Linked DNA regions of Homo sapiens. The protein of the gene in region 1 interacts with the protein of each later gene in a biochemical or structural test. Each region holds a gene or a part of one and is shown on either strand. Other genes may lie near its edges.

What was found.
Region 2: the proteins of SOCS6 (region 1) and DAB1 form a complex in vitro, tested with the Homo sapiens proteins (one study listed by BioGRID).

What each region holds. Positions count from the first base shown.
Region 1 is NC_000018.10:70,319,889-70,323,714, forward strand, and holds part of SOCS6 (suppressor of cytokine signaling 6), read left to right. Parts: intron 1-1,714; exon of another isoform or gene 1,715-3,760; intron 3,761-3,826. UniProt on the Homo sapiens protein: SOCS family proteins form part of a classical negative feedback system that regulates cytokine signal transduction.
Region 2 is NC_000001.11:56,997,344-57,001,060, reverse strand, and holds part of DAB1 (disabled homolog 1), read left to right. Parts: intron 1-2,913; exon of another isoform or gene 2,914-2,932; 3' UTR 2,933-3,717. UniProt on the Homo sapiens protein: Signaling adapter of the reelin-mediated signaling pathway, which regulates the migration and differentiation of postmitotic neurons during brain development.

The DNA.
Region 1 (3,826 bases):
GATTATTCCATGTGTTTTAACAGATATTTTCCCATAAATAATCAACATGAGTCTGTCACTTCATTAAAAACAAATGACAGTATTATTGCCAGTGATAAAATTCAAAGTTTCTTTTTTTTTTTGAGATGGAGTCTTGCTTGTTGCCCAGGCTGGAGTGCAGTGGTGTGATCTCAGCTCACTGCAGTCTCTGCTTCCTGGGCTCAAGTGATTCTCCTTCAGCCTCCAGAGTAGCTGGGATTATAGGTGTGAGCCATAATGCCTGGCTAATGTTGATATTTTTAGTAGAGACGGGGTTTCACCATGTTGGCCAGGCTGGTCTCGAACTCCTGGCCTCAAGTGTTCCACCCACCTCAGCTTCCCAGAGTGCTGGGATTATAGGCATGACCAATGGGTTTGAATGTTATAGAGTAAAAAAATTTTGTGTTATGGTTTTAGATTTTACAGGGCAATTTATCATTAAGAAACTATTATTCATTGAGTTTTGATATAGTATCAAAGAAAAATATCCATAGTTATATGAAAAGGTTATTAAATAAAATATATTGTTCCTTTTTCCAACTATGTATCTGGAGGAGGCTGAATTTTCTTCTTACAGGTAGTCCCCTATGCACAGTTTCAATTACCACAGTCGATAGTCATCTGAAGACAGCTAAGTGCAGTACAGTAAGATATTTTGCGAGAGAGAGAGTCCACATTCTCATAGCTTTTATTACAATATTTTGCTATAATTGTTTAATTTTATTATTAGTTATAGTTATTAATCTCTTACTGTACCTAACTTAAAAATTAAACTTTATCATAGGTATGTGTGTATAGGAAAAAAGCAAAGTATACTTGATATAGGGTTCTGTACTATATGTGGTTTCAGGAATCCACAGGGGATCCTGGGATGTATCCCTTGCAGATAAGAGAGGGCTACTGTACTGTAACAGATTCAGTGCAGAAGTAGATATGAGAGTCTAGCTGTCTTCCTTTAGTCAGGCAGAAGAGATTTACAGTAATGTCATGTGGTACCACTTTCACTGATTTTTATTATCATTCATGAAAATGTTATTTATGTTAACATGTAATGAGTATATTGTCATTTTAAAATAAATATAAAATTAGGCTGGGCATAGTGGCTCATACCTGTAATCCCAGCACTTTGGGAAGCTGAGGTAGGAGGATTGCTTGAGGCCAGGAGTTCAAGACCAGCCCGGGCAACATAGACCTCATCTCTACAAAAAGTAGACAAAATTAGCCAGGCGTGGTGGTGCGTGCCTATAGTACCAACTGCTCAGGAGGCTGAGGTGGGAGGATCTCTTGAACCCAGGAGGTTGAGGCTGCAGTGAGCCGAGATCATACCACTGCACTCTAGCCTGGCCAACACAGCGAGACTCTGATTCTGTGTCTTCAATAAATAAATAAATAACAAATTTTCTCAGTTTTTTTTTTTTTTTTTTTTTTTTTTGACAGAGTTTTCGCTCTTGTTGCCCAGGCTGGAGTGCAGTGGCGCAATCTTGGCTCACTGCAACCTCTGCCTCCCAGTCTCAAGCAATTCTTCTGCCTCAGCCTCCTGAGTAGCTGGGATTACAGGCACACGCCACCATGCCTGGCTATTTTTTTTTTTTTTTTTTTGTATTTTTAGTAGAGATGGGGTTTCACCACGTTGGCCAGGCTGGTCTCCAACTCCTGACCTCAGGTGATCCGCCTCGGCCTCCCAAAGTGCTGGGATTACAGAAGTGAGCCATCATGCCCCGCCTCTCGGTTTTATTTTCTAGTAGGGTACATTTCAAGAGATGCAACCCACATAAACAATGCTTCTTCCTGTCTTCCAATAATTTTTAAGAGAATAAAGGGGTTCTGAGACCAGAATGTTTGAGAACCACTGATGTAAGCAGTAGAATGACAGGTAGGACAGGTTGGCATAGGGGAAGAATGTGAGCTTTGCAAATAAACAGCCAGGTTCAGATTCTGGATCTGCTGTTGCTAGTAGCAAATTGTTTAACTTTGTTGGGCAAATTCCAGTCTCTCTGATAACCAGTTTCCTCATTTTATAAAATGGGGATAATAAAGCTGTTTTGTTTATTGAAGGTTAAGTAGTTGTTTGATCTTTTTAATTTTTTCATTATGTGTTATGATGACTGACAGACATGACTACCTCAAGTCATTTAAGAAAAGGTTGAAATTATTTGAAGAAGTTATCCTTTACCCATATGGATAAAGTTTATGTCTAAAGCTTTTTCCCTTGAAACTTTATATACATTTTCAAGTATATGTATAAACTTAAAATTTTACAATTAGAAAAGCAGTAAAACTAATTCAGAACATTTACTTAGGCACGAGACAGATGGTAATCCTATAAAAAGATGGCATATATTTTTGGATGTGCAAACAGAAAAACAGATACTCTTAAAAATTTTAGAGTAATCTTTGCCTAGAATATGAAGGGAAGAGATAAAAGACCATATGGCCTAATAGAACTTTTATAGTTTGTAATGTCTAGGATTGAATTTTGTTTCTTTAATATTAGTATTGATTAATAGCTTACTAATATGGATTGGTAGTTGAAAAAGGAATAATTTTCAAGCAGGTAATTGCCAAGTACTTTTACCGTGGTTGCTAGTCTCTCGTGTTTTGGGGTATGGGTGTGATAGTGGGAAGCACAACTATTTGAATCTCACATTTAGTAGGGTTAATCAGTTACTGATTCTGGCAGTTATAATAGTTCATTATGCTTGGGTAGAAGACATGCTACTAAGACACTGAGTTCACCTAATATACAACTTCATTTATTATTTAAAAGTAACTGGTGCTTCAAATATTTTAAGTTTTTTATTTTTTACAACTTATTCAGAAACATAGTACATGACAGTAGACTTTTAAAAATTGCTTCTTCCTTTTGGGGACATGATAGTACTGATCCCCTGATAGGTTGTCTAATCTGAGTGGTTTTTAGTAAGAATGATTCCATCTGCACACCACCCGAATCCTATCTGTAACTAAAAGGGGACAATTGTCAGGTTCTCTCTCTCCTGTCAGTTCCCACCTTGTGTACCATTATATTACTGAAGGGTTGATACTACAGTTTATCTGTTCATACATCTGTCTCTCCTACTGGATTAGGTGACCATCAGTTATTCATCAATCTGTGTATTGCCACACAGGGCTGAGCCAAGCTGACTCAGCAGAGGCCGAGTAGGGGCTTAGTAAAGGCAGAGTGAATTCATGAATGGGATCAAAGCTAGAGCCATAGTCTTGTGCCAAGAAACTGAGTGGCGCTAAACTGCTGATTTGGGAGGTCAGAATCTTGTTCTGGGCTTTATTAGCATTTCGCTCAAGTCAAGCGAATCACCTTGTCAAGTCATATGCAGAGAAGGCAGAACATGACGTTGGAGGAAAGAAAACATTCTACACAGTTTAAACACAGGGCCTTTGTAAAGTAGTGTTAGGATCACTTAACGTGGTTTATGGAACCAAGATTTTTTGCTGTGAAATGACTTTCAGAAAGTCTTTACAGAATTGAAATCCTGTCATTTCAGTGTAGAACAATGTACAAAAAAAGTTTAGAAAATATATTTCTGGATATAGAAGTAAAAATTTGCCATGGGAAATTGCAAAAAAAGAAGAGTAAGCAATAATAATTCTGGAAATATGTTTCATAATCTTCCAAATAGATCAAAACTAGACACATGGGTTTTTATGGGTGTACTTCAGAGATGAAGCTTTTCAACCTGCGCGCATTGAGCTTCTTCCTCCTCTGTGCATTGGGAACTTGAAGGTAAATGATTCTTGTTCTCAAGGAATTCTCGAGTATAGAGGAACATCTCTAGATAGTTTATTACAG
Region 2 (3,717 bases), on another chromosome or scaffold:
CTGCTGGGGGTTTTCCACACCACTGCTCCCCTTCATTAGTGGGGATAATTGAGAGTTGACTGCAGTCGTTACTGCTGTTGTGATGGGTATTTGAAGCTAAATTCGGGCAAGTAGGAGATGTGTGAATATTTATCTCAGCTGCAGAAACTTAATGCAGTGTGGCATTAATTACCCTGTCTGAGCCTGCTGTCTTCTTCTGTTTTTAGGTGTCATTTTCAGTTGGATAAATTAGTTTCCAAAATTAGAATAGAGCAAATTGTAGGGTGAGATCAAGGCAGCCTGACTTCTTGGGGCATCCAAAAAGAAGAATGAGCTGAGAACATCTATCCAGGAAACATTAATATGCGTGCTTGAAGCCCAGCACAGGCAAAAGGAAATATTTTTCCCCAGTAGTTGTACTTAACTATTTTTGACTCCACCTACTGCACTTGTAGAACACAAACACACAATAAAGTTACATGTTTAGCCTTACAACATGTATTTGAAATAGTTCAAGAGACTGGAAAGGAATAGATTTGGTGTTTAATAAATCATAATCTTACTATAGATTTTGCTACATTTGATTTTGAGAGAATAAAGCCAAATTGGAGTGTATTTAGGACAAAGGGATCAGAACTGTGAGGAAACTAGAAACAGCATTATAATCATTCAGTAATTCAACAGACTCTCATTGAGGACCTACTGTGCTAGGTTCATATTTGTAAAATGGCAGAAGGAGGCCTGGCGCGGTGGCTCACACCTGTAATCTCAGCACTTTGGGAGGCCGAGGTGGGCGGATCACAAGGTCAGGAAATTGAGACCATCCTGGCTGACACAGTGAAACCCTGTCTGTACTAAAAAATATAAAAAATTAGCCGGGCGTGGTGGTGGGCACCTGTAGTCCCAGCTACACGGGAGGCTGAGGCAGGAGAATGGTGTGAACCTGGGAGGCCAAGCTTGCAGTGAGCCGACATCGCGCCACTGCACTCTAGCCTGGGCGACAGAGTGAGACTCCATCTCAAAAAAAAAAAAAAAAAAAAAGGCAGAAGGAACTGGCAAGTGGTAACCTAGAAGTAGGACATGGAAGAATGGGCTTCCGTACTTTTCTGTCATCAGACATTTGGACGAAGGATTGTACTTATTTACATTTCCAAGGGCAGTAGAAAGTCTACGGGCAGAAGGCATGGAGGGACAAGTTGGCACTTTGTTACACTGCATAATAGGGTGCCTCCAAGGAAAGAAGTTCCTTCCCACTGGAAGAATACAAACATAACAAGTTCTAGAGGAACCAGAAATTGGATCTGATGGCAGGAGTCTTGGGGTCTACTCTTGGCATGGATACTAAGTAACCCTGTGACTCTGAAGAAACAAAAGCTGTCTTCACAGGACTTCAGATTCCTCATCTGTACAATGATGGGCCAGTACAACCTTATCTTCTAGGCCATTCCACTTTACAGTAGAAAGCAAGCAATATGATATGCTACACACAAGAGACAGCACAATGACCTTGAGATCACACAACCTTTCAGAACTTCAGTTTTTATCTGCAAAGGGAGGACTCAAAAAATAAAAGCCACCCTCAGGACTATAAGGCAGATAAATAAGACATGAGGTGCTTTGTAAACTCTGAAGCACCAATGGATGGAAAGATTGGGGTCTCTCTCTCTCTGTCTCTCCCTCCTCATGGTCACTGTTGTAAAAGATTAGAAAAAGCACTGGCCCCTGGACCCTGTTTTCAGTTCTCATGTCTCTAGACTTACTAGCTGTGTGACCATGGGCAAATTATCTAACTTCTCTGTGCTTAATTTCACCCTTGCAAAAGAGATAAAGCATCTGCCTTACAAGGCTGTTGTGATGAGATAAAAAGACAATGTACTTGAAAATACCTAGCATGGTGCCAGACACATGGTAGGGGCTCCCAGAATGCCAATTCATTTTGAAGTTTCAAGAAAAAAGCAAATAATAAGAACCTATATGACAAGGCAGGGGACAAGCTAATATATCAAATATGGTAAAATTAGGATTTCATTGTGCCCGTTTAATTCTGGCACAGACCTCCAAGAGTGACAGCATAAAGGTCAATTTTAACAGAAGGTCCTGTGCATGCTTAAAACCACAGTATCCATCAAATCTGCTTGGCCAAGGCACAATGAGCCATCTCAACATCAGCTGAAGTCTGACGGGGTTTAAATAGGGCCGAACGCTGTTTCCTATCTAGGTGTGGATTGCAGGTTTGCTGCATTACATGCTGGTTGAAAATCCCTGTATGTGTTTCAGGACAGCCCCCTGGGTGCAGGCAAATGACTGGCCAAAGTGGAGGGCTCAGACTGAATGGAAACAAGTCCAGAAGTTTGTGATTAAGAGACAAAGACACACTTGCTGTTTCTCTGGCTCAACAGTGCACCCAGGCATCACTATTTGTAGAAGAGCAATTTGAAATAGAATTTCAGGGTTCTCAAGTGGACATTTATGAAACTGTGTTGGAAAAATGTCCACTTGTCTCATGGTAATTGTTAGCAATTTCTGAAGATGTATTGCTAGCAAGCATTGTGCTAGATACTTTATATGTGTAATCTCTAATTCCCTCAAGAACCCCGTAGGATAAACAGTACTATTCCCATTTTGTGGTTGGAGAAACCAAGACTCAGGATAAGTATCTTGTCCACATGACACAGCTTTTCTAACTCTCCCTACTATACCATGCTACTTCCCTAACAGGGCAATCAGTTCCAACTTGAAAACGAAAGACAGAACTGAGTGCATAGCTATTTTGGATAATAAAAATGTTGCCAAAATGTTATGCACCCTGATCAAATACTCCAAAAATAACCTAAGGTCATCCATCATAAACTGTCACTTTTCTGTTTTAATCCTAAACCCCTTTTCCCAAAGCTGTCTCAGAAAATCCATGCAAGTGTAAAGAGCAGGCCTCACTTTGTTCCTTTATCCACAGGAGCCAGAGCCTCTGTACGCGCAGATCAACAGACCTAAGAAATAGCATCGATGCGAGCTCGTGGTGGGTGCTCAAGACTGGCATGGACATCAGCATCACGACAGGCTCTCTTGTATTCTTTCACCTCTTCCCACAAGAAATTCATGATTGCCCAATGGAACTCGCTCAGAAGAGGGAACTAAGCATTTTTGGCAACCAATGGCAGATATCTATGGCAGCACACAAAAAAAGTATAGAAAGATCCACCCAACATTAAATCAGAAATCAAGCAAATGCTTACCCAACAAATATTTGAGCCCTCATAGCTGGGTTTAAGATGACTCAGTGTGCAAAATTATTAATTCCCTTTTTATTTCTCTACCTGTTGACCACTGTTGAGACACCAAATTTGGAGTGACAGGCATCAGAGGATTACAACAGGGTTGGAACTGACTTCTTTAAGCAAAAGCAAAGGGTCTTCTGTGACCACAATATCGTCATCCATATGCCTTTTCACATAGGATGATGTGTTTTTTGTCACTCCATGGGGCCTGGTCTGCCATTTTCCCCCCTTTCCTTTTTTTGTCATGTTTGAAAATTAATAGGTGTACAAATTTTTGTATTGCTTTTGACTTTTTTTAGATATGGGTGAAGAAATCTAACTGGGGAGAAAAAAAGCCTCAGTGAAATGAATTAACTTGAAATTACAAGACAAATAAGTGGTTGATTATTCATTATGATCACGAATGTTGCCAAAACAGTCCTTTAGCTATTCTGCATCCTGGTGAAGAAAGACAGCTTTCAGT